Homo sapiens: one gene and its partners. The protein of the gene in region 4 purifies or fractionates together with the protein of the main gene of each other region. This does not show direct contact. Each region holds a gene or a part of one and is shown on either strand. Other genes may lie near its edges.

Evidence for each region.
Region 1: the proteins of CSNK1A1 (region 4) and RASAL2 purify together in Homo sapiens (affinity purification with mass spectrometry; 5 studies listed by BioGRID and IntAct, with this or other methods). This does not show direct contact.
Region 2: the proteins of CSNK1A1 (region 4) and GAPVD1 purify together in Homo sapiens (affinity purification with mass spectrometry; 7 studies listed by BioGRID and IntAct, with this or other methods). This does not show direct contact.
Region 3: the proteins of CSNK1A1 (region 4) and SNX24 purify together in Homo sapiens (affinity purification with mass spectrometry; 5 studies listed by BioGRID and IntAct, with this or other methods). This does not show direct contact.

The regions. Positions count from the first base shown.
Region 1 is NC_000001.11:178,453,794-178,461,655, reverse strand, and holds part of RASAL2 (ras GTPase-activating protein nGAP), read right to left. Parts: intron 7,210-7,862; coding exon 7,008-7,209; intron 4,957-7,007; coding exon of another isoform or gene 4,936-4,956; coding exon 4,757-4,935; intron 3,974-4,756; coding exon 3,112-3,973; intron 1-3,111. UniProt on the Homo sapiens protein: Inhibitory regulator of the Ras-cyclic AMP pathway.
Region 2 is NC_000009.12:125,298,964-125,306,825, reverse strand, and holds part of GAPVD1 (GTPase-activating protein and VPS9 domain-containing protein 1), read right to left. Parts: coding exon 7,720-7,862; intron 4,844-7,719; coding exon 4,000-4,843; intron 1,764-3,999; coding exon 1,677-1,763; intron 1-1,676. UniProt on the Homo sapiens protein: Acts both as a GTPase-activating protein (GAP) and a guanine nucleotide exchange factor (GEF), and participates in various processes such as endocytosis, insulin receptor internalization or LC2A4/GLUT4 trafficking.
Region 3 is NC_000005.10:122,848,613-122,855,612, forward strand, and holds part of SNX24 (sorting nexin-24), read left to right. Parts: intron 1-7,000. UniProt on the Homo sapiens protein: May be involved in several stages of intracellular trafficking.
Region 4 is NC_000005.10:149,540,962-149,548,823, reverse strand, and holds part of CSNK1A1 (casein kinase I isoform alpha), read left to right. Parts: intron 1-2,979; exon of another isoform or gene 2,980-3,554; intron 3,555-7,862.

The DNA of each region.
Region 1 (7,862 bases), on a different chromosome or scaffold from region 4:
AATTATCTATTTTAAAAGGTCTCTTCAAATTCAAATTTCTAAGATTAGAGTACATGATAAATCTGAACAACTCATATATATAAAGTCTACTGTTTGTACGAAGTAGATGATACATGAAAAACAAAATAGAGAGGAAAATAAGAAAAAAGCAATACAAACAGAGGCTGAAATGGGTTAAAAAATTAAGAGAGTTTCTTGAAAAAAAATTTATCTGTGAATTTTTTCACCAGGATTTTATTTCCTTCCTACTCATTAGACGTAGAAGACTGAAGCCAGTTACTCTGCAGACAATGGCCACTACTTTGTGCTAAGATATAAATGGAATTTGCATGGGACAAAGCTACTGATAATTACAGCCGCCTACAGAACAATCCCCACAAAGAAATCCTCTAGTTTCTGGGAGAGAATTCCCCAACACAATTTGCAATTAAAATATGTAAAGGAATTTGCCTTAAAAATGTGCTGATTATATAGAACTTCAGAGGCTTCATGGGAGTGAGATGAACAAAGCAAGCAAGAAACAGATAAGAAATAAAAAACTAGGCCAGGCACGGTGGCTCACTCCTGTAATCAAAGCACTTTGGGAGGCCGAGGCAGGTGGATCACTTGAGGTCAGGAGTTCAAGACCAACCTGGCCAACATGATGAAACCCCACCTCTACTAAAAATACAAAAATTAGCCAGGCGTGGTGGTGGGCATCTGTAATCCCAGCTACTCAGGAGGCTGAGACAGGAGAACTGCTTGAACCTGGGAGGCGGAAGTTACAGTGAGCCGAGATCGTGCCACTGCACTCCAGCCTAGGCGACAGAGCAAGACTCTGTTTCAAAAAAATAAAAATAAAAATAAAAAACTAACAATGTAAGTTCAAAACAATGAACCAAAAGCCAGTGTAGGAAAAAAAAAAGAAACTTGAGCAATCAAAATACGGTGATTTATGCTTCAACTGATAGGACAGTGGCAGTACCAGCAAAAGTATAAACAAAGATTAATATTCAAAGCTGTACCTGGACATCTCACTGTGCCTGTACCCCACTTCATGCCAAAAAATATATTTGGTGACTCATTAATGGCTGTGACACAAAAACTAATTTTTATATTGGTTGTTTGGAGACTGTATGCATTTCCTACCTCCCATCCATCCAGGCAGCCCTCTAATCATAACCCACAGAAACATGTATTATGTGCTTATGCGATAGGTATTGTATTTTCCTAAAGAAAAAATGTTATAAATGACAACTGGTTCCAGATGAGCACAAAAAAGGCTATTTAATTTATAATATTAATAAACAACCAGCCTGAGTCATAGGCCCTCCATGATACAGAAGGAAAGGGTAAGCAAAAGAAAAAAAAAAGAATCTTTATTTTCCTTTTCTGTACAGGGCTGGGCCTAAGTACACTTTTGAAAAGCAGGTGGAGGACACTTTCCCTGTCCTGTCCCTCTCTGCCAGATCTCATGCTCTTCGCTAATCCTATTTTATCTTCAGTGCCCTTGTGCTGCCCTAAGTCCCTGAGTAGATATTTGCTTCTACACAGTATTCTGATTTCTAAAATTATGTATTTTTTCCTTTCTCCTCCCAATAAACATCTTAATTCTCTGAAAGTAGTTGATCGCAACTAGAATCTAGCACAAAAGTGATGTGAGGAAACTACTTCACAATAAGGTAGGAATGACTGATAGCCTTCTAACACATACATTTTATGCTTATATACACATACACATTTATATATAAAAAATACATATGATACATATAAAAGATATCTATTTTTCCTTTTCTTCAAATAAAAATGCTTACTAAATCAAATGATTTGGTAAAATTTTGGGAAATATAACAAAATAAAAATGAAAAATTTAAGACTGTAGAAAAACTTTATTACTCAGTAAAAAATGACCAACTAGGAGGTTTAGCCCAGGAAGTCTGCTTCCAGAAACAGCTTAAGTTAGTCATGCTTTTCATCCCTTCTTCTATTTCTGTATCCAAGGATTCTATAAATAATCCAATTAAAAAATCAAAGTAGGTGCAAGGGGCTCTGATCATAGCAGACTGGAGGCAGAGGCAGCCATATAGGTAAGTGCCTAAACTGTAAAAATGCAAATATATAACAGATACAAACTAGGATTTTATTGCAGTCTCCCTGCCCAGTTATTTTGCTGCATAAAAGGATTTGTCATAGAACTCTTTTAATCTCAAGTTTTTTAGTACTATCATTAGGTTTCAAAAAAAATTCAACTAATACAATGCTTTTTTAGGAGAAAAATCTTTTTAGATGAAAGATATATAAAGATATATATTATATACATGAAAAATTATATGAATGTGTATATTATATATTTAACAGTAGTTTGTTTCAAAGGGAAAAATATGTATTGATGCTTCAAAATGTAATATTTAAGGAAGAAATGATTAGTTTCTTGGCAAAGCTTTTTATTTGTCAATAAAAAAATTAGAAAAACTTATATTAAGATTGGATGTGATGTTAGCTGGGCTTGTCCATGTAAATAGAAATGTAAGGGATTTGCAGATGTTTAGAATACTTCCTTTTCCACCTGTGCTTCTATCTTTTTACTCTCTCCTTTACCTTGACTCTACAGGTGTTCAAGTGTTTATTTTTCTAGCTATTTCCAGGAAAAGCCACATGGGACTTTGTATTTCCAGAAGGAGTTGAGGGATGGAATGGAGAGCAGTCATATTAAACTCTTGGCTCGGAATGCAAACCTTTATTCTGGAAGCTTAAGAAAAAAAATTAAGAAGGATTAATTTTCAGATTTCCAAAATAATAGCTGGTTTTGCCTACAGATTTTAAGTATCTAATTATTCATTCAACATCATAGATTTGCTCTAAGTGCAAACTGAGGTAGCAGCTCTGCTGCTTGAAGAGAAGGAAGGGGGCCTCTGCGTGTTTGTTAGACTCTTAAGGGTAATGAGTCAAACTACATTCTGTAGTCACACCTGGGCAGAAGCCTCCCAAATTTTTCCTTTCCTCTTTCCATTTAAAGGTTGCTTTTAAGAGGAAATCTTGTTAACAATAGGATTTCCCAATGATTTATGTATAAAGAACCAAGGAAACAGATGGACCAAGTAGAAGCCAGGCCCCTTCAGCACTCACACCTACCTGCTGTGTCTGTTGTCTCTGGATTGCTCTAACTTTGGGAACAGGGCTCTCTCTGGAGGAAGAGGACTGCTGCCGGGACCGGCTCCCATTCTGCACAGGTTCGGCCACCAGGGCTGCGGACACCACTGACATGCTCCCGGTGCTACGTAAAGAAGCACTGTGTGGCAGGGATGGTGGGGCTTTGGCTCGGGCACCTAACCCACCCTGGTCCACTTTTCGGATCTGGGCCTGCCCAGTACTATTTTGTCGTGGCAAAGCAAGAGGTATGTGTCTATCTGGCACCGTGTGCCGCCTGGAGAAGTCCTCACTCTGAGTGCTACGTTTAGTGAAATCTTCCATGCTGCTATTGCTGGGTCCACTGAGCTTGAAGTCTTCACTGTTACTTTGGCTTCTGGAACTGGCAGTGCTTAGGTTCTCCAAACTGGAATCTATAGAGGCCTTTGGCATTGCTGGAATTGGGTTATTGAGGTGATAGACAGGGTTCTGGAACGACAAGGGCTGAAGGCCACCTGGCTGGTTCAAGGCTGGGTGCAGGGGCCTTCTCACTTGGGGTGCACTTTGGGGAGTGCTCTGGGTTTCCCGCAGCTGTTTGATGCTGGCCACCTGGGTTATGGAAAGCTGGCTTCCGGTCAAGCGTATAGGCACATCAAGCATGACAGATGCATGCTCCACTTGAGCAGCATGAGTGTCCTGGAGGTCCATGAGGGAGACGCTCCGACCATTAGGAAGGCTACTTTCCCTTTCATCCTTTTCAGAATAAGTCATGCTCTGAGAGGAGGCTTGCTGAACCAGCAATAATGTTTTCCCTCTGAAGTAGCTGTCTGTGTTGTCCTGGCTTGGAGATTTTAGTTTATGCAAATCACTGTGGAAAAGGAAAGGACACTTAATTTCTCTTGAGACAACTTCAACATGGCTAAGATGCCTCAATTCAGGCATATGAACTCCTCCGAAGGTTCTTATGTGGATACGTACATTTCTTTGGAAACTCAGATTTTATCTAATTAGGGAATTATTACAATGCTTAGAATAAAATCCAGCATTTTTACTTTTTCCCCAAAGGTACAGAATAACACTGTAGATACCAACCCATCACTGTCTTCAGTTTTAACCAGGATTCCAATAATTTCCTAGTTAGGTTTTAAACCTTCCCCAAATATTCCAATTCATACTTACTTGTCTAAACCTTCAAGAGAAGAAGTTCTAAGCACACAACTGAAAGGTCCCTGCAAAAGGCACAAGTCTTGCCAATCCCTAAAACAGTCTAAGCATCGACATTGTATCTACCTGTCCAGTTGACATAGCCAGCTATAAAATGGTTTTAACCGAGGTTCTCCAAGATTTTGAATGCTATAACGTACAGAAACATGAATTTCATAAAGCCTTTAGTCTTCCACTAAGCAAGACAGAAATTTTAAAAATATGCTTGTGGAATATATTGTAACTCTCTATACTACCATTCTAGAAAATAAGTCATCCCAGATCTTGTGCATTATTATGACAAATAATTGGACTGCTCTCAGGTCAGATGAGTCTTCAGTTGCTCATGATTTTAAACTTGTAAATTCAACAAATAGGTTGAATATACTTCTGCTAAATCTAAACATTATGTTTCTCCGAGATAGTGGTCAAATTCTCTCTTTCATACCTGTCAGTGGGGTCTTCAAATATTTTCTGCAGCCCAGAGGAGAGGCTTCCACTGACATTTGGACTGGAGTTATGTTCAGTGAAGCGTCTCAGTTGCTGTTGTATTGGCGTAGGATTAGTCAATGACTTGGTAATATCAGCAAGAACACGAGGGAGAGGCCCCAATTTTGCCACGGTCGCCTGTAGGAAGGAATTTTCACCCTAATTGGATAATAAGCATTGCGACATCCACCACAGATTGTTTTTGGCACAACGATGGCCATTGATGGAGGGGTGTAGGTTGGAGGGAAGGGTAAGTGTTTGCATATGGGAGTGGCAGGTTCATAATGCATTGTTATGGAGCAGCAGAACCATGGCGTCGAGATGAATGGAGGAGGCGAAACAAGGTGCGGCAGACATCGAGGAAAGAAAGGAAATCGAAATCAGGATTATGCAAGTAAAAATTAAAAGACATGCTCAAAACTACCAAACTAATGCCATTCCAACTAAAATAGGCATGCGAAGCAAACTAAATCTTTGGGAGGCTAGTAGATCAAGGTGGGGGAGGGTGGAGGCAGAACCAAATTCCTTCTAACCAAAAGAACTTCAAGATCAGAGGATCAACTAGTATGATAAACTTTCAAAGAAAAGGGATCATGTGAGAAAAGAAATGCATGCCAACATATAAGAAGGTGCTCATTCAGGAATCCAGAGTACTGCAGGGCACACAGATGATACTGCCATCCACTATCCCAGTCAATCTTGGGAACCCTGACCCACTGCCAACTGAGTTTCCATCAGTAAGACAATTTTTATTGTTAATTTAACAGCAAAATCAGGTAAACTTCCTCTATGAGATATGTCTAGATGTATTCCTGGTTCCCAGGACCAAACACAGATTAAAAAGGAGAAAGTGTGTTTACATAGCAAAGCCCGTTAAAAAGACTTTGATCCTGAATAAACCAGGCCCATTTCACAGGAAAACTGAATCTGCATTCCACTGAGATGCAGTTATTCAACAAAGACGAACTCTTTAATACTTGCTTTATCCATTTCAATCATTTTTTTATTTAGGGAATTCTTATTCTCATGGGGTCTTAGGGGTCCCCTTCAACTGTCAGTCAGTTTGGCATAGCTGCCTTTGGGTCTTTGCCTTCTCAACAATCAACAGACTCTTCTACCCTACTCAAACAGGGATAGATGCCACCAAGGCCTTTACTTGCTCAATAATGTTGGGCTACGATTCACATGAAAAGGGTTTATCTTTGGCATAGCTGCAACTTAAAAATCTAGCTAGCATTTCTAAAAGTGAAGAAAAGGTCCTCGAGAATAAGGAACAGTTTATTGTTTTACAAATATTTTAAGCACTGGAGGACACATTACCACATATGTTTCCTCAGCAAAGTGGTCTTTGTTAATAGGTTTTATTCCCCTTCAAATTTTACTGATATAGCATTTTTATTGATAGGAAAATAGAGGAAAATAAGTAGATCATTATCATAGAAAAATGACTGTCTTTTGAAGTTATTCTAACATACCACCACACATATTTATAAAGTGCCTGTAGCAAACAAAAACATCAATAAATAATTATTGTAATAAGCCTAGCCAACGTCTTTTAGACTATTTTTTACTACCAAATCTATTCCTTTTTGTTAAATTCCAGAAGGAAGAAAATGATTGGCATGGTGTATATTTACTTATTAATACGGTATATAATAAAATTCTTAGCAAACGATTAAAAATAATTGCTTTCTGTATTCTTAATTCACATCTGTAAAGAAAGAAAACAATGACTGTTAGCACTAATAATTATATGAAACTCTATGACTTGTATAGTAAAAAAATTTGTTTCATGGGTAGTTACTTAAAACATGATAAACCTAGTATTTTCTTAGCTAAATCTATACTTTTATTAGAAATTACTATATGAGGTTTCATCTTATCCTATTAGACATGCATAAGGCTGTATATACCAATATATTAGTTTCTAGTCAAGTTTTCAGATATGCACTCTGTATATATAAATTTAGAGAAATATACTCCATTAATTCAGATAATTATTAAAAACATATATTAATAATGTCATGGTTTTCTAGAGTTTCATGGTTGTCGATCTCATATTTTACTCAGAAATGATGACCATTTACTCTCAGATTTCTAGGGTAAACAGTTGCTTTCAATTAGCAGAAAGAGTGAGTGCTATCACTCTATAGTTACTTTCCAGAATTCAGGTACATTAAAGTTCTCTATCTTCCACCAACCTACTTTACCTTATCAAGTTGGGAAACTACTTCCCACAGTAAGGAATGCAAAACTGAAAGCTCTCGGCCCAGATCAATGTAACCATCAAAGCCTGGGGTGTTTGAGATGGTGTCTGGATTAGAGATCTCCAAAAGAAAGCGCTTCATTCCACCCCATTCATGTTCTAAAAAATCATTCATGAATGCCATGTATTCCTCTTTGTTACCAAACCTGAAGTAGAGGATGAGAAAATGAGAAAGAACATATTCAAGAGAGATATGATCATTTTGATTTGACATTACACAGAACTATTACTTTTTTTTATTTTGTGGAGGGAATGACTAATTTTGTTTATTATCTATAAGTGATAAATGTTATAACATACTTTCTTAATATCACTTTAATATTCTAATGCTTTGAGAATAGCTTTCTATTCTCTCTAAAGGGTAAAGCCAAAACTCCTTTTTTTTTTTTTTTTTTTAGTTCTGGGATTTAAATTTCTCTGCAATATAGCCCTCACTTACCTACCAAAAGCTCACCAGTACAAACCTTCAATACTGCTAGCTTCTACAAAGTCTCCCAAATATATTACACATTTTTTTCTTCTCCAAGCTTTTGCCCATGCTATTTACTTGCACTAGAGAAAAACTTCTCTCCTTTGCCTATCTAGATTCTAGCTATCTGCAGGGCCTAGTTTAAGTCCATAAAACCTGTTCCAAAATAAAATATAAATATTTTTAGCTCAAATATCGATAAATATGTATATTTCTGCATTGGCTTATATATAAATTATACAAAATTAAAATAGTACACCTCTAAAAAGCCACCACTTATACTAGAAAACAATCTGTTCACTGAAGTTCCAATTTTTTTCTTCAATACAT
Region 2 (7,862 bases), on a different chromosome or scaffold from region 4:
CTCTTTTTGTACTGATATAGTCTAAGATCTTGGAGCTGGGTGTGGTAGTGCATGCCTGCAATCCCAGCACTTTGGGAGGCCAAGGTGGGTGGACTGCTTGAGCTCGGAAGTTCAAAACCACTTGGGGCAACAGGGCAAAACCTTGTCTCTATGAAAAATACCAAAATTAGCCAGGTGTGGTGGCGCGCACCTGCAGTCCCAGCTACTTGGGAAGCTGAGGTGGGAGGACTGCTTGCGCCAGGGAGGTCGAGGCTGCAGTGAGCTGAGATGGCATCACTGGGTGACAAAGTGAGACCCTGTCTCAAAAAAAAAAGAAAATAACAATAAGATGTTGGAGACAAACATAACACAACACAGAACAGTATACACATTGTGCTACTATTTCTGAAAGGGAAAGGAAGGGATGGTTGGAAGTATATAGTGTACGTAGGAATTTGCCTGTAAACATATGGACCTCTAGAAGGAAAAACAACCTAATAACATCAAGAATCTTTTGGGGGCCAGGCGTGGTGGCTCACGCCTATAATCCCAGCTACTCGGAGGCTGAGGCAGGAGAATTGCTTGAACCTGGGAGGCAGAGTTAACAGTGAGCCGAGATCACGCCACTGCACTCCAGCCTGGGTGACAACAGCGAACCTCTGTGACAAGAAGGAAACTCTGTCTCAAAAAAAAAAAGAATGTTTTGTGGGGGCAGGGAATGAAGACTAGAGATGAGACGTGGAAGGGAAATTTTACTCAAATATCCTTGAATTTTCATTGGTTGAATGTACAGCTTAATCAAAGTAAGACTGATTAAAATTTTATTTAACTATATTAATTGAACAATGTCATAGATGTTAACTTATAAACTACACTTAAAATTAAACAATTATCGACCAGGCATGGTGGCTGACATCTGTAATCCTAGCACGCTGGAATGCTGAGGCAGGAGGATCACTTGAGGCCAGGAGTCAAGACCAGTCTGGGCAACATAACAAGACCTCGTCTCTATAACAATAAAAACACTTAGCCGGGCATGGTGGTGTGCCCCTATAGCCCAGGTACTTGGGAGGCTAAGGTGCAAGGACTGCATGAGCCCAGGAGTTTGAGCCATGATCACACCACTGCACTCCAGCCTGGGCAACAGAGTGAGACACTGACTCGAAAATTTAAAAGTTGGCCAGGCGCGGTGGCTCACGCCTGTAATCCTAGCACTTTGGGAGGCCGAGGCAGGTGGATCACGAGGCCATGAGTTCAAGACCAGCCTGGCCAAGAAGGTGAAACCCCGTCTCTACTAAAAATACAAAAATTAGCCGGGTGTAGTGGCAGGCACCTGTGATCCCAGTTACTGGGGAGGCTGAGGCAGAGAGTTGCTTGAACCCGGAGGCAGAGGTTGCAGTGAGCCAAGATCATGCCACTGCACTCCGCCTGGGCGACGGAGCGAGACTCCATCTCAAAAAAAAAAAAAAAAAAAACTTTTTAAAATAAAATAATCTTAACAGCTCTTTGATTCTCTTACGACGGCATCTCCTCAATACATCTGTGGGAATTAATCATCTTTAAATGCTGCTGATCCAATACTGTAGCTAATTAAAAGAACATTTAATTTAGATATCACCTAAGGACAAGATTTAATAAAGAGAACAGTTAGGCTCACTAATACTTCAGAATTTTCTATAAATCATATTTATTCTTACTTTGTCAAACTTTCCAAGGCTGCTCTTTGTTCGGGGATCTCCCTCTTCAGAGCCAGTCATTGCTAACTGCTGCAAAAGGCGGCCTACCTGCAACCCAAAGCAGTGGTAGGGAGACATAAGCTACAGACAGATACTCACAAATACGTCTCTATGAAAGCAAGCACGTCTATTCTGTTCTAAAAATCTGTTTCATAATACTATTCATATCACCTGACCAGGCATATGAAATAGTATCCCCCAAAAAATGTGTACCTTATGTCAGCTTTTACTATTTTTAGATTAAGAGTTAGAGAAAGTATAAATTTTTGCTTTAATTTCTCTTTAACACATAAGATATCAACATTAGGGAAAAAAAGCACAATACATTTGTTTCTGACATTGTACTTTTCATTTGTTTAGAGCTTTTTAAATTAATTTGTAAAAGCTGACTCATTCATTAAATTGCCTTAAGTTAATATTAAGAACATTACCTTATAGCGTTCACAAAGCAATCAAGGTATAATTTTTTCCCTAGATTTAAAAGCAAATGATTCCTAACATAAGCTGGTTTGATAAAGTAAATACTAATTCATAGAACAAGTACCTTACTGGCAAAATTTGTTACTGCACTCTTTTTAAAGGCTAATGATGAAAGTTATTACAACATCCTCTTCTTAATATCTGGGACAAGCCCCCTTTTTACTGATTCTGAAAATATGTAATTTGATCTCTACTGGAATGACAAAAAAAACAAACAAAAAAAACTACAAATACATTATCTACCATAAGAATAAATTTAAGTGTTTCATGGGCCAGGCACAGTAGCTTACGCCTATGATCCCAGCACTTTGAGAGGCCAAAATAGGAGGATTACCTGAGGCCAGGAGTTCAAGACCAGCCTGGACAACAAAGCAAGACCCTGTCTCTACAAAAACATTTTTTAAATGAGCGAGGTGTGCTGGTACACACCTGTAGTCCCAGCTACTCAGGAGGGTGAGGCAGAAGGGTCACTTGAGCTCAGGAGTTCAAAGGCTACAGAGAGCTAAGATGGCACCACTGTACTCCAGCCTGGGTGACAGAGTGAGACTATCTCAAAACAAACAGACAAACAAAAAAAAACCTACTGTTTCATGTCAAAAATTTTGTGCTCGCTTCAGAAGCACATATACTAAAATTGGAACTCTACAGAGAAGATTAGCATGGCACCTGTGCAAGGATGACACACAAATTTGTGAAGTGTTCCATATTATAATTTTTTTAAATTTATAAACATTAAAAAAAGTTAAAAATTTTATTTCAGGCATTTCTATACAGTGAATTGCTAAACATCCCAAGGTGATATAACTGATCATTAAAAACAGCTAATCATTTTTTCTGATTTTTTTTTTTTTTTTGAGACGGAGTTTCGCTCTTGTTGCCCAGGCTGGAGTGCAACGGTGCAATCTCAGCTCATCGCAACCTCTGTCTCCCGGGTTCAAGCAATTCTCCTGCCTCAGCCTCCCAAGTAACTGGGATTACAGGCATGTGACACCACACCTGGCTAATTTTGTATTTTTAGTAGAGATGGGGTTTCTCCATGTTGGTCAGGTTGGTCTCAAACTCTGGACATCAGGTGATCCGCCCGCCTCGGCCTCCCAAAGTGCTGGGATTACAGGCGTAAGCCACCGCACCCGGCCAATTTTTTTTTTTTTTAATAGATATGGGGCAGTTGGGGGTCTCACTATGTTGCTGAGGCTGGTCTCAAATTCCTGATGTCAAACGATCTACCCACCTTGGCCTCCCAAAGTGCTGGGATTACAGGTGAGAGCCACCACACCCAGCTTGAGCTAATCATTTTTTAACAATCACCCAAGGCCAGGAGTGGTGGCTCACGCCTGTAATCCCAGCACTTTGGGAAGCCGAGGTGGGCGGATCATCTGAGGTCAGGAGTTTAAGACCAGCCTGACCTAAATTTTAACCCCATGGCTAAAAATACAAAAATTAGCCAGGGCGGTGGTGTGCGCCTGTAATCCCAGCTACTCAGGAGGCTGAAGCAGGAGAATTGCTTGAACCCGGGAGGCGGAGGTTGCAGTGAGCTGAGATTGCGCCACTGCACTCCAGCCTGGGCAACAGAGTGAGACCCTGTCTCAAAAAACAGACAAAGACAAAATGTTTTGTGACCGCAATAATTTTAAATCCCAGTATTACTGCTTTTATTTAATAAGATGCAAATACTTAGGACTGGTTGAGAAAAAGTTGTAAGAATATACAAATACTGTCATCGTATTATTTGTTCCCACCCCCACAGCCCAATCAACTGAATTTTAAACTAAATGCCACGTTAATAATAATAGCAAAAGCATACCTGCATCAGATTAAATCGTGCTACTTCATTAATAGGAGCATCGGAAATTATTCCATATTGTTCTGGATTGACAACTGCAGGACAAATGAAGCAGGCCAACAGGAGATCAGTACACATTGCCCTGACCTCCCCAACTTCCAGCCTATCTACACAGGAGAGGGTTTTGTACATCTGAGACACGATCCACCTTAAACTATGTGGAAAACAATATGTGTTCTGTTTGAGATAACCAATAAATTTGTTCACCAAAGCCACTAGCTTTGCTTCATTGGACTCCACCATTTCTTGAACTTTTTGCCTGAATCTATCTGAGCCCTTCTCTCCAAAGAGTTTTTCCTGCTGAGATGGAGAGAACCTCTCAATTAGCTTGTTTGGATCTGTTTCCAGGTGATCTTCATCTTCAACAAGCAGTTGCATAATTGGCTCATGTAAAGTGGCTGTGAGGAAAAGTTTGGCAGAAAACAGTCCTTCAGAAAAAAGTTTAAATAAGATGCTGAAGGCACAAGTTCCTCTCCTCAAAAGTCGCCTAGGGTTGTCACTTTCTTTAAGTTCAAATTCAATCAAGTATCGCAAAACCTGAAGGAGGTAGCTTTCATCTTCTTGCATGATGCAATTGCCATACAGGGAGGTAAAAACTGTGTAAATAACACTTTGTGTGTTCTCCTGATTAAGTTTCTCTCCAGCAACCAAAGAGGAGGCAATAAGACGAGGATTTTCCCTCAATCGACTCAAGAATTCTCCATAAGCAGTCTCCTGAAATCCCAATTGCTTATACCCATCAACAAATTGTGTATCTTCCAAAATTTTGGCATGTTGGCAACATTCAGCAGGGGAAGCTTCAGCACTAAAAAAAAAAAAAAAAAGAGCAAACAAGCAAAATAATAGTATTAATAATAATAACACATATACTATATCCAAACATGGATATGTGAGTTGATTATGGTCCCAACAATGAGGTCACTCTGAATTGCTAAAATTTTTTAAACTAACAGCAACTCAATGAGTAAAGGACAACAAAACTAAAAAGTACAAAGGACAATTTCCTCTTATCAAATCAGAATCAATGAAAAGTATTGGGGCTGGGTGCGGTGGCTCAGACCTGTAATCCCAGCACTTTGTGAGGCCGAGGCGGGCAAATCACTTGAGGCCAGGAGGTCGAGACCAGCCTGGCCAACACGGCGAAACTCCCATTTCTTCTAAAAATACAAAAATTAGCCAGGCATGGTGGCAGGCACCTATAATCCCAGCTACTTGGAAAATTGAGGCAGGAGAATCACTTGAACCCAGAAGGTAGAGGTTGCAGTGAGCTGCAATCATGCCACCGCACTCCACCCTGGCCAACAAAGCAAGACTCTGTCTGGAAAAAAAAAAAGAAAGAAAGAAAGAAAATTATCAGTTTGTAGATCCTAAAAACTGTCCAGAGCTGCCCTCTTATGGATTAAATTAAAATTAGCTACAGGAAGGACACAGTGGCTCACACCTGTAATCCCAGACTTTGGGAGGCCAAGGTGGGAGGATCACTTGAGCCCAGGAGTTCAAGACCAGCCTGGAAAATATGGTGAAACCCCATCTCTACAAAAAAATATGAAAATTAGCTAGATGTGGTGGCGTGTGCCTGTAGGCCCAGCACTCAGGAGGCTGAGGTGGGAAAATCGCTTGAGCTCAGGAGCTTGAGACAGCAGTGACTCAAGATCATACCACTGCATTTCAGCCTGGGCGACACAGCCAGATCCTGTCTGAAAAAAAAAAAAATCAGCTACAGTTAAACTGCTTATGCTTATTTATGGACATAAGAAAGTTTACAAATACTCAAGTACTAAAAAATAATAAAAATGAAGTCGATATCAGCATATTGCTCAACCATTCTCAACAGCAACATGCCAGTATGTAATGACCTGCAGAATCACATCCTTTAACTAGGCTTTTTGCTTCTGGAAACAAATCCAAATAAAATAAGCCTAAAAGATGTGGGGAAAAAACCACAATGCCCACAACAGCACTGTTCTTTTTTTTTTTTAAACTCATTTTTATTGAGGTAAAATACAGTAAAGTGCACAAATGTCAAGTGTTCAGCTTGAACAATTTTTACACATACATGCACCCAGTAATCACCACTCAGATTAAGACATGGAACATTTTAAAAACCCAAGAACGCTTTCACGTGCCCTTTCCCAGTCAATACCACCCTCTCAAGCCCAAAAAGTAACCATTATTCTGATTTCTGTCATCAAAGATCAGTCCTGTCTCTTTTTGAACTTCATACAAATAGAATCATACAGTATGTATTCTTTTGCATCTGGCTTATATTCTCAACAGCACTGATATTCTTAGAGTTAAAAACTGTTCTTGGCCAGGCAGGGTGGCTCATACCTATAATCCCAGCACTTTGGGAGGCCGAGGGGGCAGACTGCGAGGTCAGAAGTTCAAGACCAGTCTGACCAACATGGTGAAACCCCGTCTCTACTAAAAATACAAAAATTAGCCAGGCATGGTGGCACAAGTCTGTAATCCCAGCTACTCAGGAGGCTGAGGCAGGAGAATCTCTTGAACCCAGGAGGCAGAGGTTGCAGTGAGCTGAGATTGTGCCACTGCACTCCAGCCTGGGGGACAGAGCGAGACTCCAACTCAAAAAAAAAAAAAAATAAAATAAATGTTCTTCGTAGGTATTAAGACAATAAAATGTGGTTTCTAAACCCGAAAAATAGCTATACAATATCAAAACATGGAAATACATATATATATATATATATATATATATATATATATATATATATATATATATATATATTTTTTTTTTTTTTTTCTTTTGAGACAGAGTCTCACTCTGTCACCCAGGCTAGAGTGCAGTGGTGCGATTTTGGCTCACTGCAACCTCCACCTCCCGGGTTCAAGCCATTCTCCTGCCTCAGCCTCCCGAGTAGCTGGGATTACAGGCGTATGCCACCATGCCCCGCTAATTTTTGTATTTTTAGTAGAGATGGGGTTTCATCATCTTGGCCTGGCTGGTCTTGAACTCCTGACCTCGTGATCCACCCACCTCGGCCTCCCAAAGTGCTAGGATTACAGGTGTCAGCCACCACACCCAGCTGGAAACCTATATATTAAATAATATTAGGAGAAAAGCAGAACAGATAATTTACTCTCTACAACAACATTTTTTTTTTCTTTTGAGGAGACAGAGTCTCGCTCTATGGCCCAGGCTGGAGTGCAGTGGCACAATCTCGGCCCACTGCAACCTCCACCTCCCGGGTTCAAGCAATTCTCTGCCTCAGCCTCCCGAGTAGCTGGGATTACAGGCGCCTACCACAATGCCCAGATAATTGTTGTATTTTTAGTAGAGACGGAGTTTCACCATCTTGGCCAGGCTGGTCTTAAACTCCTGCCCTCATGATCCACCCGCCTTGGCCTCCCAAAGTGCTGGGATTATAGGTGTGAGCCACCACGCCCAGCCAACAATAACATTTTATATAGACAAAGACACAAAACCAATTGGTGTGATATAAAATGTCAATGCTTAAGTTACAATTTTCTATAAAAGTGCCTAAGTTACTTAATAATCCAAATAAACTGTATTATAAGCAAAGACTCACCTTAACATTGATGTAAATTATCTTAAATAATGCACTTTGTTGGAAACAGATTCATTTATTTATAGTTACTAATTTATTTACAGAATCATAGTGGTTCACAAAACTTAAAACCTGAAAATCATCTCTTTACCTGGTTATGATAAGCCGATCCAAATTGATTCTCTGTTGCTTCGCAATCCATGCTGTACGATACAACTTTTCAGCTGTCTTAAGTACATCTGCATTGAGCCTCTGAATGAGCTGTTTCTCAGAGTTTACATATAAGCGTTCCTG
Region 3 (7,000 bases), about 27 Mb from region 4:
ACAGGCGAATCTCTTGAGCCCCGGAGGCGGAGGTTGCAGAGAGCCGAGATCGCGCCACTGCACTCCAGTCTAGGTGACAGAGCAACACTCCATCTCAAAATAAAAAATAAAAATAAAATTTAAAACACATTACATCACATTCTAACAAATTCAGTAATAGGAAGTTTAAGGTAGAAATGGGTGGTTTCTCCTCTTTGCTTCTAGTCTCATTCCCCCAGAAGTAAAGTTTCTGGGTGTATCTTAGAATTTTTTCCTTGTGCTGTGAGCACATACTTTTTTTTCTTTTAAAAAAATAAATGGCAAGATTTTAGTATAGCTGTCATCTTACAATTTATAGACATCTTTCAATATTGATATGGAGAGGTCTGCCTCCTCTTTCTAACTACTGGAGATGGGCTCTACCACGGTAGGATGTGCCGTAATTTTTTCCCCAGGTATCTGCTGATGGCCAGGAAATCCTTGGACATGATTTTTTATGCCCACTACTAGGATTTCTGTAGAACCTTAACTAGAAGTGGTATTTCCAGCCCTTTACAGTTTTTACAGATATTGCACGATTGTTATTCAAGAAGTTTATACAAATTTATTCTCAGTGTACTAAGTAATTTACCTTTAAAGAATGAATTTTTGCCCTTTAAACATGTAAAGCTTTATTTACTGTGGGCCTGTACTGTGTTGGTGGCGATTTAAAGATGGAAGGGTGGTGTTCCTGCCCTTAGGGATTCTCAGCCCATATAGAAGCTGCTCAGAGCTAGGCCGGGAAAGGTTAGGGTGACCCAATGTCAGCTGGAGCCTTGTATCCAGGGGCCTGAGGGAGGGAGAGGTCAGTTTGGCCTGGCAGGGTGGCTGTGCTGAGGTGGGGGTGCTTAGGAAATGCTGACTTTGAAATCTAATTAGGTTTTTGCTAGGATTGTGAATTTTAGAAAGAGGAAATACAGGACAAAATCTTATAAGCCATTTTAAAACTCAGATATGCCCCCAAAAAAGGGGGGGGGAGGGGCACCTCTAAATAAGTTTGTGAAGAAGTAGGAGATGGTAGTGTAAGAAAATGCAGATGCACCCAAATGTTACTTCCTGGGGAGATTATTCTGTCCCATTCCCTACCCAATGGCTTACTTATTTAATATCCTCTGCTATAAACTCCCCAAGTATCCCCAAGCTATAAACTCCTTGAGGCTAGGTAGTGTCCATCTCCACTGTTGTATCCTAATACAGAATTCAGTACATGTCTGTTGAATGAATAATGAGTGATGTAATCTTCATAGGAGGAGAGAAACCAGAAGAGCAGTGATCTTGAGGTGTGTAGCAGCTCAGAGAGTTAGGTGGAGGGTTGTGCTGCAGACTGGAATTTCAGGATTGTGCGAAGTGATTGCAGTAAGAATAGTGGGGAGAGATCAGCTGACTCCCCTTGAGAGCTATAAGGGAGTGTGGACCTTCAGACAGGGAAGTCATAGGAGAATTTTAAGGAAGGAAGTAACATGATTAGCTTTGCATTTAGAAAGATGACTATCTTAGTTCAGGCTACTTTAACAAAATACAATCAACTGGGTAGTTTATAAACCACAGAAATTTATTTCTCACAGTTCTGGAGGCTGGGAAGTCCAAGATCAAGGTGCTAGCAGATTCAGTGTCTAGCGAGGGTCCATTTCCAGGTTTGTAGGTGATCCCTGCTTGTTGTGTAGAAGTGGCAAAGATCTCACTGGGACCTATTTTATAAGGTTACTAATCCCAGTTATGAGGGCTCTGCCCATGACCTCATCACTTCCCAGAGGCCTTACCATCTAATACCAATACATTGGGTTTAGAATTTCAGCATGAGAATTTGGGGGAGACAGTCAGACTGTAGCGATGATTCTGGAGTATTCATCATTTAAGAGACACTTAAAAATGATCAGAAAGGAGAGGATGAAGGCTAGAACTAAGACTTTAGCGTTGAACATGGAAAGGAAGTGATGACTGCAGATATCTCCAGTACCTGGTGACCAGATGTACAGCAGCAGTGTGACTACCGTGGGTGCAGGTACCAGTAAGCAAATAAGAACTGAAGCAGGGCAGATATTTCATTTGGGCACCCACTGAGTTTTTGGTGATGGGTATAGCTATTTGATTTTGGAGTCTAGGGTGGATTTAAGTCTGGCTTAGAAATATGGCTCTAAGGGGACATTCAGCATAAAAGTTAAAAAAAAAAAAAAAAAACCCACAGAGAAAGAGTGAGGAAAGAGGGAGGGCCAAGGGTAAAACCTTAGAACTTGAATAAGCAAAGAAGTCCCAGCACAGAAGCCAGAGGGAGAAAGAAACCAAGGAGTGTGAGGCTGGAAGAGAGAGGGTGGAAGATGCTTTACAAGAAAGAAAGTGCCAGATGCTCCTGAGTGGTCTTGCAAGTTGAGGATGGACAGCAGTCCATTCTAAGAACTGAGAATAATAGGTCTTGGATGCCACTGTAGGCTTGTAGTTTGAATTTTAAGATACATTGTTGACAAAAATAACAAAACTAGAATTACTACTTAGGTCACAATACAAAAGTATGAATGTATTAGACTTGAGTTTTTTGGTTTTGTTTTTGATTTTTTGAGACAAAATCTCCCTGCGTCACCCAGGCTGGAGTGCAGTGGTGTGATCTCGGCTTACTGCAGCCTCTGCCTCCTGGGTTCAAGCTGTTCTCCTGCCTCAGCCTCCCAAGTAGCTGGGCCTATAGGCACGAGCCACCATGTCTGGCTAATTTTTTGTATTTTTAGTAGAGATGGAGTTTCATCATGTTGGCCAGGCTGGTCTTTGAACTCCTGACCTCAAGTGATCCACATGCCTCAGCCTCCCAAAGTGCTGGGATTACAGGCATGAGCCACCACACCCAGACTTAGACTTCAGTTTTTATAGCTGTAAAAATCACAGCGTTGAATTAGATTCAAGTCCATTTTAAGTACCTGCGTGACTGCATGTGTTATGCGTAGACATATATATCTTCTTGGGACCTGGATACTATCACTGATTTACTTAATAAACACTTAGAAATGTAGCATGCTCTTCAGTACACAAGGCAGCTTCTTATATATAGGATCATAATGTGAAATATTATTATGATCATTATTATTTTGAAGCTTTTATGGATTAAACTACAAAAATAGAACAATTTAATAAACTATCATTTACCCATTACCTTCAATATTTTATAATTCTTTCATTCACTACACCTCAGTCCCTGTCTTTAAAAAAAAAATTCTGGAGTATTTTTAAGCAAATTCAAAACAATTTTATCTGCATAATTTTACAGTGTATACCTGACAGGTAAAAACTTTTAAAAAGCATAACCAAAATGTAAATATTACCGCAAAATTATCAATACCTTAATAGCATCCAGTTTCTGGTTGTTTTTGTTGGTTTTAAAATAAGCACAATGTAAACCCTGCCTTGGAATTAACAGTGATTTGTGTGCATTTTATTGGTACTGTAGTGCTATTTTATATATGTGTGTGTGTATAAATATATACACACACACATATCTATCTATATCTATATCTATATATATATGTATATATTTCTTTTTTTCTTTTCTTTTTTTAAAAATTTTATTTTACTTCAAGTTCCGGGATACATGTGCAGAAAGTGCAGCTTTGTTACGTAGGTAAACATGTGCCGTGGTGGTTTGCTGAACTATTTTGTATTTTTGAGAACAAGTCCGAGACACTGAGTGAGGGAGCCTGGCTACCTGAGAGTGACTCTTCTGTTTCAGAATAGCTTCTTTTTTTTTTTTTGACAGAGGGTTTCACTCTGTCGCCCAGGCTGAGTTCAGTGGTACAATCAAAGTTCACTGCAGTCTTGACCTCCCCAGGCTCAGGTGATTCCGCCACCTCAGCCTCCCAAGTAGCTGGGACTACAGGTGCATGCCATCATGTCCGGCAAATTTTGTATTTTTGCTAGAGATAGAATTTCACCATGTTGCCCAGGCTGGTCTCGAACTTCTGCGTTCAAGTGATCCACCCACCTCAGCCTCTGAAAGTGCTGGGATTGTAGGCATGAGCCACCATGCCCAGCCGCATTTAATAGTAAGGACACTTTTCTCCCTAGAACCCCTGAGCAAATAAGTCTCCCTTCAGTTTCTTTCTCATTAGCCCTAGTTGATTTTTCAACACAGAATTGCAGAGGAATTCCAGTGCCAATTTGCTGAGGCCAGGGTTATCTTAACCAACCATCATGGCAAGGAGGGTAGGTTAACCAGATGGAGTTAAAATAGGAGGCATCTCTGGAACTGGGAATGGGTTAGTCCATTCCTGTCACCAAACCCCTCAGGCATCACAGTGGGAGAAGGGCAGCAGGATGTCAGGAAGACCACAATTCCACGCCATGTCCTTCAGTCATCCATTACCAGCATGTACAATGAAGGAGGCCATTGTGTAACAAGGACGTAGCTGGCACAGTGCCTCATTCATGGTAGGCTCATAGCAGAAGCCCACATTAAATATTTGTTGAATGATTAAATCAAGCATGTGTAAAATATGTTCTTTAGCCTTTTTTTTTTTTTTTTTTTTTTTTTTTTGAGACGGATTCTTCGCTCTGTTGCCCAGGCTGGAATGCAGTGGCACGATCTCGGCTCACTGCAAGCTCCGCTTCCCAGGTTCACGCCATTCTCCTGCCTCAGCCTCCCGAGTAGCTGGGACTACAGGCACCCGCCACCAAGGCCTGCTAATGTTTTGTATTTTTTAGTAGAGACGGGGTTTCACCGTGTTAGCCAGGATGGTCTCGATCTCCTGACCTTGTGATCCACCCGCCTCGGCCTCCCAAAGTGCTGGGATTACAGGCGTGAGCCACCGCGCCCGGCGGTATGTTCCTTACCCTTAAGGACAAGAAATACCGTTTGAAAACATTCTTCTTGAACATTAACAAACTTAGAATGGTACATTCATTTAAGAATTAAAATAGGCACAAGAGGATTGAATTTTGGAAATATGTTGCTTAGAAATTTGGGGGCACAAGCAAGCTTGTTTTCATTGAGCTAGAAATATGTTTTAACTTTTTTTTAGATGTTATTTTCAAATTTATGTATTTTAAAAAATTTTTTTCGTACAGGTGAGGGTCTTGCAGTGTTGCCCAGGCAGGCCCTGAACTCCTGGTCTCAAGCGATCCTACCGCTTCAGCCTCCCAAGATGCTGGCATTACAGCCGTAAGCCACTGTGCCTGCCTTAAGAACTTGAAAATAAACCAAATAAGTTATTTTGTTCTTCAGCCTGTTCCACTAGGAGTGTACAATCAAATGACTGGTTTTAAAATCACTTGGATTGGTTCTCTACTTAAAACACAAGCTAGCTACCCAGTCTTGTATTTTGTATTTTTAAGAATTCTTAAAAAACTAATTTTGTTTTGTATTTGTGTAAAGCATAGTCATAATTCTAAATCAAACACACTGCATCGAGTTTATCTACTGAAATTCAGCATCTGCTTTTGTCCTCACTTTGTTATCTTCTGCTCTCATCGATTACTATTTAAAAAAAAAAAAGTGGTATGAGGCTGTCCCCAGCACTACACAGATGAAAGGGAATTATTTTTTCTTCTGTATATAGAAGCCCTTACTGCTAGCAGATTTATGGGATCAAAAGATGCATATAAAAATAATCATAGTGTAGGCCGGGTGCAGTAGCTCACGCCTGTAGTCCCAGCACTTTGGGAGGCTGAGGCGGGTGGATCACGAGGTCAGGAGATCGAGACCATCCTGGCTAACACAATGAAACCCTGTCTCTACTAAAAATACAAAAAATTAGCTGGGCGTGGTGGCGGGTGCCTGTAGTCCCAGCTACTTGGGAGGCTGAGGCAGGAGAATGGCGTGAACCCGGGAGGCGGAGCTTGCAGTGAGCTGAGATCATGCCACTGCACTCCAGCCTGGGCAACAGAGCGAGACTCTGTCTCAAAAAAACAAAAAAAAAAAACAAAAAAAAAAACATAGTGTTACTTATGTAAAAAAAAAATCTTATGGCTTATCCTTCCATTGAAAAAAATATAAACACATACTAATATATTTGTGTCTCCACTCCTTTTCTTAAACAGTGGTATACTAAAACATTTTATTTCAACTTGCTTTTTTTACTTAATGATATATCCTGGAGATCACTGCACAGGGACATATATGAAGATGTATCATTCTCTTCTGTACAGGTATACCTCAGAGATATTGTGAGTTTGGTTCCAGACCACTGCAGTAAAGTGATTATCTTAATAAAGCAAGTCACACTAATTTTTTGGTTTAATAATGCATATAAATGTTTACACTACACTATAGTTTATTAAGTGTGCAGTAGCATTATGTCTAAAAAAATGTACATACCTTAATTAAAAAGTATTTTATTGCTAAAAACTCTAATGATCATCTGAGCCTTCACTGAGTGGGAATCTTTGTTTGCCTTGATGTTGATGGCTGCTGACTGATCAGGGTGGTGGTTGCAAAAGGTTGGTGGCTGTGCCAATTTCTTTTCCTTTTCCTTTTTTTTTTTTGAGGCAGAGTCTCGCTCTGTTGCTCAGGCTGGAGTGCAGTGGTGCAATCTTGGCTCACCACAACCTCTGCCTCCTGGGTTCCACAATTTCTCCTGCCTCAGCCTGCCAAGTAGCTGGGACTACAGGTGCAGGCCACTATGCCCGCCTAATTTTTGTATTTTTAGTAGAGACGGTTTCACCATGTTGGCCAGGCTGGTCTCGAACTCCTGACCTCGTGATCTGCTCGCCTCAGCCTCCCAAAGTGCTGGGATTACAGGCATGAGCCACCACGCCCAGCCGACTGTGCCAATTTCCTAAGACAATTAAGTTTGCCCTATCAGTTGACACTTCCTGAAACATTTCTCTGTAGCATGTGATGCTGTTTGATAGTATTTTACCCTCAGAAATTCTTCCAAAATTGGTTTCAGGTGTCTGGGCATGGTGGCTCTAACTTGTAATCCTAGCACTTAGAGAGGCCAAGGCAGGAGGATTGCTTGAGTCCAGGAGTTTGAGACTAGCCTGGGCAACCTCATGAGACCCAATC
Region 4 (7,862 bases):
TGGAGTGCAATGAATGGCACGATCTTGGCTCACTGCAACCTCTGCCTCCCGGGTTCAAGTGATTCTCGTGCCTCAGCCTCCTGAGTAGCTGGGATTACAGGCGCCCGCCACCACGCCTAGCTAATTTTTGTATTTTAGTTTCACCACGTTGGCCAGGCTGGGCTCGAACTCCTGACCTCAGGTGATCTGCCTGCCTCGGCCTCCCAAAGTGCTGGGATTACAGGCATGAGCCACTGTGCCCGGCTTTTTTTTCTTTTGAAACGGAGCCTTACTCTGTTGCCCAGGCTAGAGTGCAGTGGCGCAACCTTGGCTAACTGCAGCCTCCGCCTCCCAGGTTCAAGTGATCCTCCTGCCTCAGCCTCCCAAGTAGCTGGAATTGCAGAGCTGCACTACTACGCCTGGCTAATTTTTGTATTTTTAGTAGAGCTGAGGTTTTGCCGTGTTGGCCAGGCTGGTCTCCACCTCCTGACCTCAGGTGATCCACCTGCCTCAGCCTCCCAAAGTGCTGGGATTATAGGCGTGAGCCACCGGGCCCAGCCTGTTAGCCCCTTTTTCTATTCCAGTTTGTATTTTTCATGTCTTGAATTAAGGACTGGGTTGCATAGTCTTTACATGGAAACAACTCAAATAAAACTGTCCTTAAAAAGAGTTCCAGCCAGGCGTGGTGGCTCACGCCTGTAATCCAAGCACTTTGGGAGGCCAAGGCAGGCAGGTTACTTTAAGTCAGGAGTTCAACACCAGCCTGGCCAACGTGGTGAAACCTCGTCTCTACTAAAAATACAAAAATTAGCTGAGCATGGTGGCACGTGCCTGTAATCCCAGCTACTCGGGAGGCTGAAGCAGGAGAATAGCTTGAACCCGGGAGTCGGAGGTTGCAGTAAGCTGAGATGGCGCCACTGCACTCCAGCCTGGTGACAGAGCGAGACGCCATCTCAAAAAAACACAAAAAAACACAACAAAAAAAAAAACAAAGTTCCAATGCTGATTTACAGTTTTAATGGAGAATTGAGTGATAAAATGTGCTATTGGTTGTAAATGAGCAAGTAAATCATTTGGAAGAAAGTTGCAAATTTATCTTATGAGGTGAAGATTAAATCTGAGATGATATAGATTTGAAGTTTTTAAATCATTCTTGCCTTTAAAAAAAAAACCTACTATGTGGGAAAATAAGGCCCCTCACCCCTGATTTGCTTTCCATTACTATAGTTTTTCCTAGAATTTCATATAAATGGAATCATACGATATGAGGTCATTTGTGTCTGGCACTTTTCACTTAACATAATGTTTTTGAGATTCATCTATGTTGGGAGATTTTATAAATTTCACAAATCAGGTTAAATTTAATGTATTTGAAATCAGTTTCAAAAAGCATTAAGCATTGTCATTTTTCAGTGCTAAACCCAAGTACAGTACATGTCCTTTTATCTGGTAGCTTTTATTTAAGACCTGATACAGACCCATAAGGGCAATGAGTAATGTACTGAATAAGCACATGAATAAATTAACTTCTGAGCAGAATTATAGTAATAGGTGCCTATTATAAGGTGGTGAGTGCAGAGAGAGTTATGGTAGTTATAAGCTGTCTGTGGGTGAGGCTAAACAGATTAACCTGACTTTCAAGTTAAGGCTTCCTGAGAGATGGGATTTCAGGATCTGGCTCTAAGGAAGAAAGCTTGGTGAACTGGTTTGGTAAGGCATCCAAGAATAGAGTGTGGCTTCTGGGTGTAGTCTCTAAAGGAGAACACAGTAATTGGATGAGAGTGTGGAAAGGGTAAATTTGCTTTAGGAGTGGTAGGGTCAGGTACATGGAAACAAAAGTGGTTCATTGGTTTTAAAGTGAAATGTAAAAAAAAAACTGTTTCCACTGAAGCAAAAAGGATAAAGATTTATGTAAACATTCTTTATTTGGGTAGCAGCATCTTCCCATCCCCCTCAGTTTGTTCCCCACTATTTCTGTATCACCTATACATGGTACATACTTAATAAATATTTACTCGGAAAGTATTGAATTAAGTTGACTATTTAGTGTTAGCTAGATAAAAGTTATGTGTTATCTATTGTTTTAGAAGTATTGTCACTAATTTAAAAAATTTAGATTTTGCTGCCTTTATCCTTCATATACAAATTTGTTCAATCCCTTCCCTATGTTTTCTGTTACAAAATTCCCTATAGGATTTGCTTTTTTTTTTTTTGACATGGAGTCTCACTCTGTTACCAGGCTGGAGTGCAGTGGTACAGTCTTGGCTCACTGCAGCCTCCACCTCCTGGGTTCAAGCAATTCTCCTGCCTTAGCCTCCTGAGTAGCTGGGACTACAGGCACGTGCTGCCACGCCCAGCTAATTTTTGTATTTTTAATAGAGATGGGGCTTTACCATTTTGGCCAGGATGGTCTCCATCTCTTGACCTCGTGATCTGCTCGCCTCGGCCTCTCAAAGTGCTTGGATTACAGGCATGAGCCACCGCACCCAGCCAGGATTTTCTTTAAGATACTTTGGTATATCTTACAACAGAGACTGAAAATTACCTGGCCTGCGTAGATGACCTGCTGAATCAGGTCCTTCCTGTGTAATTTGAGAGACCTATTGTTAAGAAGCATAGCATCCTGAGTAAAGAGCAAGGATAAGCCGGGCGCCATGGCTCACGCCTGTAATCCCAGCACTTTGGGAGGCCGAGGTGGGCAGATTGCCTGAGCCCAGGAGTTGGAGACCAGCCTGGGTAGTAGAGACAGGTGAAACCCTGTCTCTACTAAAATACAAAAAAAAAAAAAATTAGCCTGGTGTGGTGGCGTGCGCCTGTAGTGCCAGCTACTCAGGAGGCTGAGGCAGGAGAATTGCTTGAACATGGGAGGCGGAGGTTGCAGTGAGCCAAGATCGTGCCACTGCACTCCAGCCTGGGCGACAGAATGAGGCTCCGTATCAAAAAAAAAAAAGCAAGGATAAGAGAATGGCATCCATTTTCTTGATATTTTAAGAAATGAAGCTTCCGGTTCTAGGCACTTGGAGAGCCGCGGCTTAAGGTACAGACATGGCCAAGTCCACGAACCACACCACACACAACCAGTCCTGAAAATGGCACAGAAATGGTGGGCTCCAGGTTCCTGAGGAACATGCACTTTGCCAAGAAGCACAAGAAGGGCCTAAAGAAGATGCAGGCCAACAATGCCAAGGCAATGAGTGCACTTGCTGAGGCTAGCAGGGCCCTCGTAAAGCCCAAGGAGGTTAAGCCCAAGATCCCAAAGGGTGTCAGCTGCGAACTCGATTGACTTGCCTACATTGTCCACCCCAAGCTTGGGAAGTGTGCTTGTGTCCGCATTGCCAAGGGGCTCAGACTGTGTGGGCCAAAGGCCAAGGATCAACCAAGGCCCAGGCTGCAGCTCCAGCTTCAGTTCCAGCTCAGGCTCCTCCCAAAGGCTCTCAGGCCCCTACAAAGGCTTCGGAGTAGGTATCTCTGTCTGCCAACGTGAGGACAGAAGGACTGATGCAACCCCCCTGGGCTGCCGTCTTTATGGGGCTGGGGTCCTCCTGTGCTATTAGTACAAATAAACCTGAGGCAGGGGAAAAAAAAAGAAAGAAAATTCTTGGACCTTGTCAATTAATATGTGAGAGCTCACTTAAAATTACAGTTGACCCTTGAACAGTGCTGGGGTTAGGGGCACTGAACCCCAGCCCACTCCCACTGTGCCCCACAGTCAGGAATCCAAGTGTAACTTTTTTTTTTTTTTTGAGATGGAGTCTTGCTCTGTCACCCAGGCTGGAGTGCAATGGTGTGATCTTGGCTCACTGCAACCTCTGCCTCCCAGGTTCATGGGATTACAGGCGCGCCGCCACACCCAGCTAATTTTTGTATTTTTAGTAGAGACGGGGTTTCACAGTGATGGCCAGGCTAGTCTCAAACTCCTGACCTCAGATGATCCACCCACCTCGGCCCGCCAAAGTGCTGGGATTACAGGCATGGACCACTGCACCTGGCCCCAAGTATAACTTGACTCCCCAAAAGCTTAACTACTACTAGCCTACTGTTCACTGGAAGCTTCACCAATAACATGATTGGTCAATAACTATATATATATATATATATATATATATAAAGCTCTTTACCCTCATCATCCTCACTTTGGGCTGAGGAGGAAGAAGAGGGGTTGATCTTGTTTGGGTAGCAGAGGCAGAAAAAAACCTGTGTACAAGTGGACCTGTGCATTTCAAGCCCCTTTTGTTCAAGGGTCAGCTGTATTGAGTTTCTGTTAAAACCTTTTTTTGTGTGTTCCATTCTAAATTGAATTAAGTTCTCCAAAGGAACAATTTAAAAATTTTTTTAAATTTTTTTTATATAGATGGGCTCTTGCTATATTGCCCAGACTGGTCTTGCATTCCTGAGCTCAAGTACTTCTCCTGCCTCAGCCTCCCAAAGCGCTGGGATTATAGGCATCAGCCACCGTGCAATGACCCAAGAAACAACTATGACATACCGAAAAATTCTTTATCTAGATAGGTTTTGGAGGTTTGAGCTGTAGATCTGCCATGTGATATTGACTGGGTCATCTACAGTCAGTCAGTTCCTTAATGTGTGTAAGCCCATCTGTTTCCTCATTTAGAACATAAAAAAAGGATTGTTCTAATGGGAAGGAGAGTGCTGAATAGAAAGATTTAGGGCTGCCTACCCTTCTTTTGCCAGCTAAATACTCATTTCCATTTGCCTTTGCATACTGAGCTTTTGGGTAGGGTTTTGTTTGAACAAGGGTTCCCTACTTAAAAGTGTCACTGGCCTCATTGATCCTAAGGACTTTTAGTCCTGGAATTTTAAGACCTATTTTCAAAGGATAGTAGCTAGAAAAAAAGCATTCCAGCAGTTTGATATTGTGTCTACTACTTGCCTTCCTTTCTTGTTTTTCCTATTTTTCTTTCATCTTTTATTATTTTTATTTTTAGCGGCAGGTTCTTGCTCTGTCACCCGGGCGGAGTGCAGTGGCTATTCAGAAGTATGATAATAGCACACTACAGCCTCAAACTCCTGGACTCAAATGATCCTCCTGCCTCTTAGCCTCCTGAGTAGCTAGGACTGCAGATGAATACCACCTCTCCCAGCTGCCTAGTGTGTTTTAATCACTATTTTTGCCCTCTGTGTCTGAAGGTCAAATGTTTTAGAACGTATTTATAAAGCACTAGTTAATCCTTACTCTTCACTTTTAAAAGCAGCTTAATCTTATCTTTGGCACTGAGCATATATCCTGTGAATAACATAATGGCTGTTATCAGAGAATAAAGATGACGCTGCATTGGATATGTCTTCATTAAGATATATTACAGTGTCCATGCTTAGCTTGGACTAAAAAAAAAAAACCAGAAAAACGTACGTCACAGATCACGAGAAATGTGCTTTTTAACTTGAAGGGAAACTGAATTCATGGTATACTAGAGCTGCTTTATACTGGCTTATGAGATAATGTAATAATGCTAGGTAGCATTTTAAGCTGGACAAAATGTTAGAGATGTATATAGCCCTATTCCTACTAATACAAATTAGACTGTTGAATCTCAGGGGAGTTACTGGAGTGTCCTAACTTCCAGTTCTTCTGAGAATCATTATCACCCTTATGTCAAGGTCAAATCATGCCCTCTCACACACTCCACATCGTTTCATTTGATACTGGAGAGCCATCCTGTACTTCTTCACTTGTTGGCATTTTGCCTCATAGACAAGCTGAAGAGCTCTTACATAAATATAAGTAACCTATTTGTATTTAATTAGATGCTTACGATTCAGGGTGTTCTTATTCTCCCTTTTGAATCTGTGGATTGCAGGATAAAAACTTGCTGGAAATTATTAATTTGTGGCCAGGCGCAGTGGTTCACACCTGTAATCCCAGCACTTTGGGAGGCCAAGACGGGCGGATCACCTGAGGTCAGGAGTTCGAAACCAGGCTGGCCAACATGGTGAAACCCCATCTCTACTGAAATACAAAAATTAGCCAAGCATGGTGGTGTGTGCCTGTAGTCCCAGCTACTTGGGAGGCTGAGTCAGGAGAATTGCTTGAGCCCGGGAGGCAGAGGTTGCAGTGAGCTGAGATCATGCCACTGCACTCCAGCCTGGGTGACAGAGCGAGCCTCTGTCTCAAAAAAAAAAAAAAAAAAAAATATATATATATATATATATACATATATATATATATATATATATATATATATACATATATATATATATATATATATATATATATATATATATATATATATAAATTTGTATCTCATTTCGGAGTAAATGCTTGAACCCATGTAAAGTATGTGGGTTATTCCTTGGCTTTAGTCAGTGGTCCCCAGCCTTTTTGGCACCAGGGACAGGTTTCGTGGAAGACAGTTTTTCCACAGACTGGAGCAAGTAGGGGGTGGGGTGGGGGTGGGAATGATTTTGAGATGATTCAAGTGCATTACATTTATTGTGCACTTTATTTCTATTATTATTACATTGTAACATATAATGAAATAATTATACAACTCACCTTGATGTAGAATCAATGGGAGCCCTGGGCTTGCTTTCCTGCAACTACCTGCTTCCATCTGGGGGTCATGGGAGACAGTAACAGATCGTCAGGCATTAGATTCTCATAAGGAATGCACAACCTAGATCCCTCTGATGTGCAGTTCACAGCAGGGTTTGCGTTCCTATGAGAATCTAATTCTGTTGATCTGACAGGAGGCTGAGCTCAGGCGGTAATGCCAGCTTTGGGGAGTGGCTGTAAATACAGATGAAGCTTCACTTCGCTTCTATACTGGATACCGGTCAGTGGCCCAGGGATCAAGGATCCTTGGCTTTAGTCATTTCTGGACCTAGATCTTTTTTTTTTTTTTTTTTTTTTTTTGAGATGCAGTCTTTCTCTGTTGCCCAGGCTGGGATGCAATGGCGTGATCTTGACTCACTGCAACCTCCACTTCCCAGGTTCAAGTGATTCTCCTGCCTCAGCCTCCTGAGTAGCTAGGACTACAGGCATATACCACCATGCCTGGCTAATTTTTTTTAGTAGAGATGAGGTTTCACCATATTGGTCAGGCTGGTCTCGAACTCCTGACCTCAAGTGATCCACCTGCCTCGGCCTCCCAAAGTGCTGGGATTACAGGCGTGAGCCACCGCACCTGGCTAGATCATTTTGTTTTAAAGTATATTTAAGCTGTACCTAAAATATCATTAAGTCTTGGTTTTCTCATGATCTGTCACTGTTCACCAGGGATTTTTGCTGTCAAGAATGAGTGTCTTCATAACTTTCATCATTTAACTTGGTGTTCAGTGTATGCACACAGGTAAAATGATGCTTTATTGTGTTACTGTTTTTGTTTCTAATTTCAATCTCAGATGGCTCTTAAAATTTTGGTTGACTGGCCGGGTGTGGTAGCTCATGCCACACCTGTAATCCCAGCACTTTGGGAGGCCAAGGCGGGCGGATCACTTGAAATCAGGAGTTTGACACCAGCCTGGCCAACATGGTGAAATCCTGTCTCTACTAAAAATACAAAAATTAGCTGGCCATGGTGGCAGGTGCCTGCAATCCCAGCTACTCGGGAGGCTGAGACAGGAGAATTGCTTGATCCCAGGAGACGGAGGTTGCAGTGAGCTGAGATCACGCCACTGCACTCTGGCCTGGGTGACAGATGGAGACTCCATCTCAAAAAAAAAAAACAAAATTGGTTGACCAGTATTAACATAGCATAAACTAATGCATGTTTTAGTGGGATTTTTATTTTTAATTTTATTTTTTGAGATGCAGTCTTGCTCTGTTGCCCAGGCCAGAGTGCAGTGGCGCAATCTTGGCTCACTGCAACCTCCGCCTCCTGGGTTCAAGTGATTCTCCTTGCTCAGCCTCTGGAGTAGCTGGG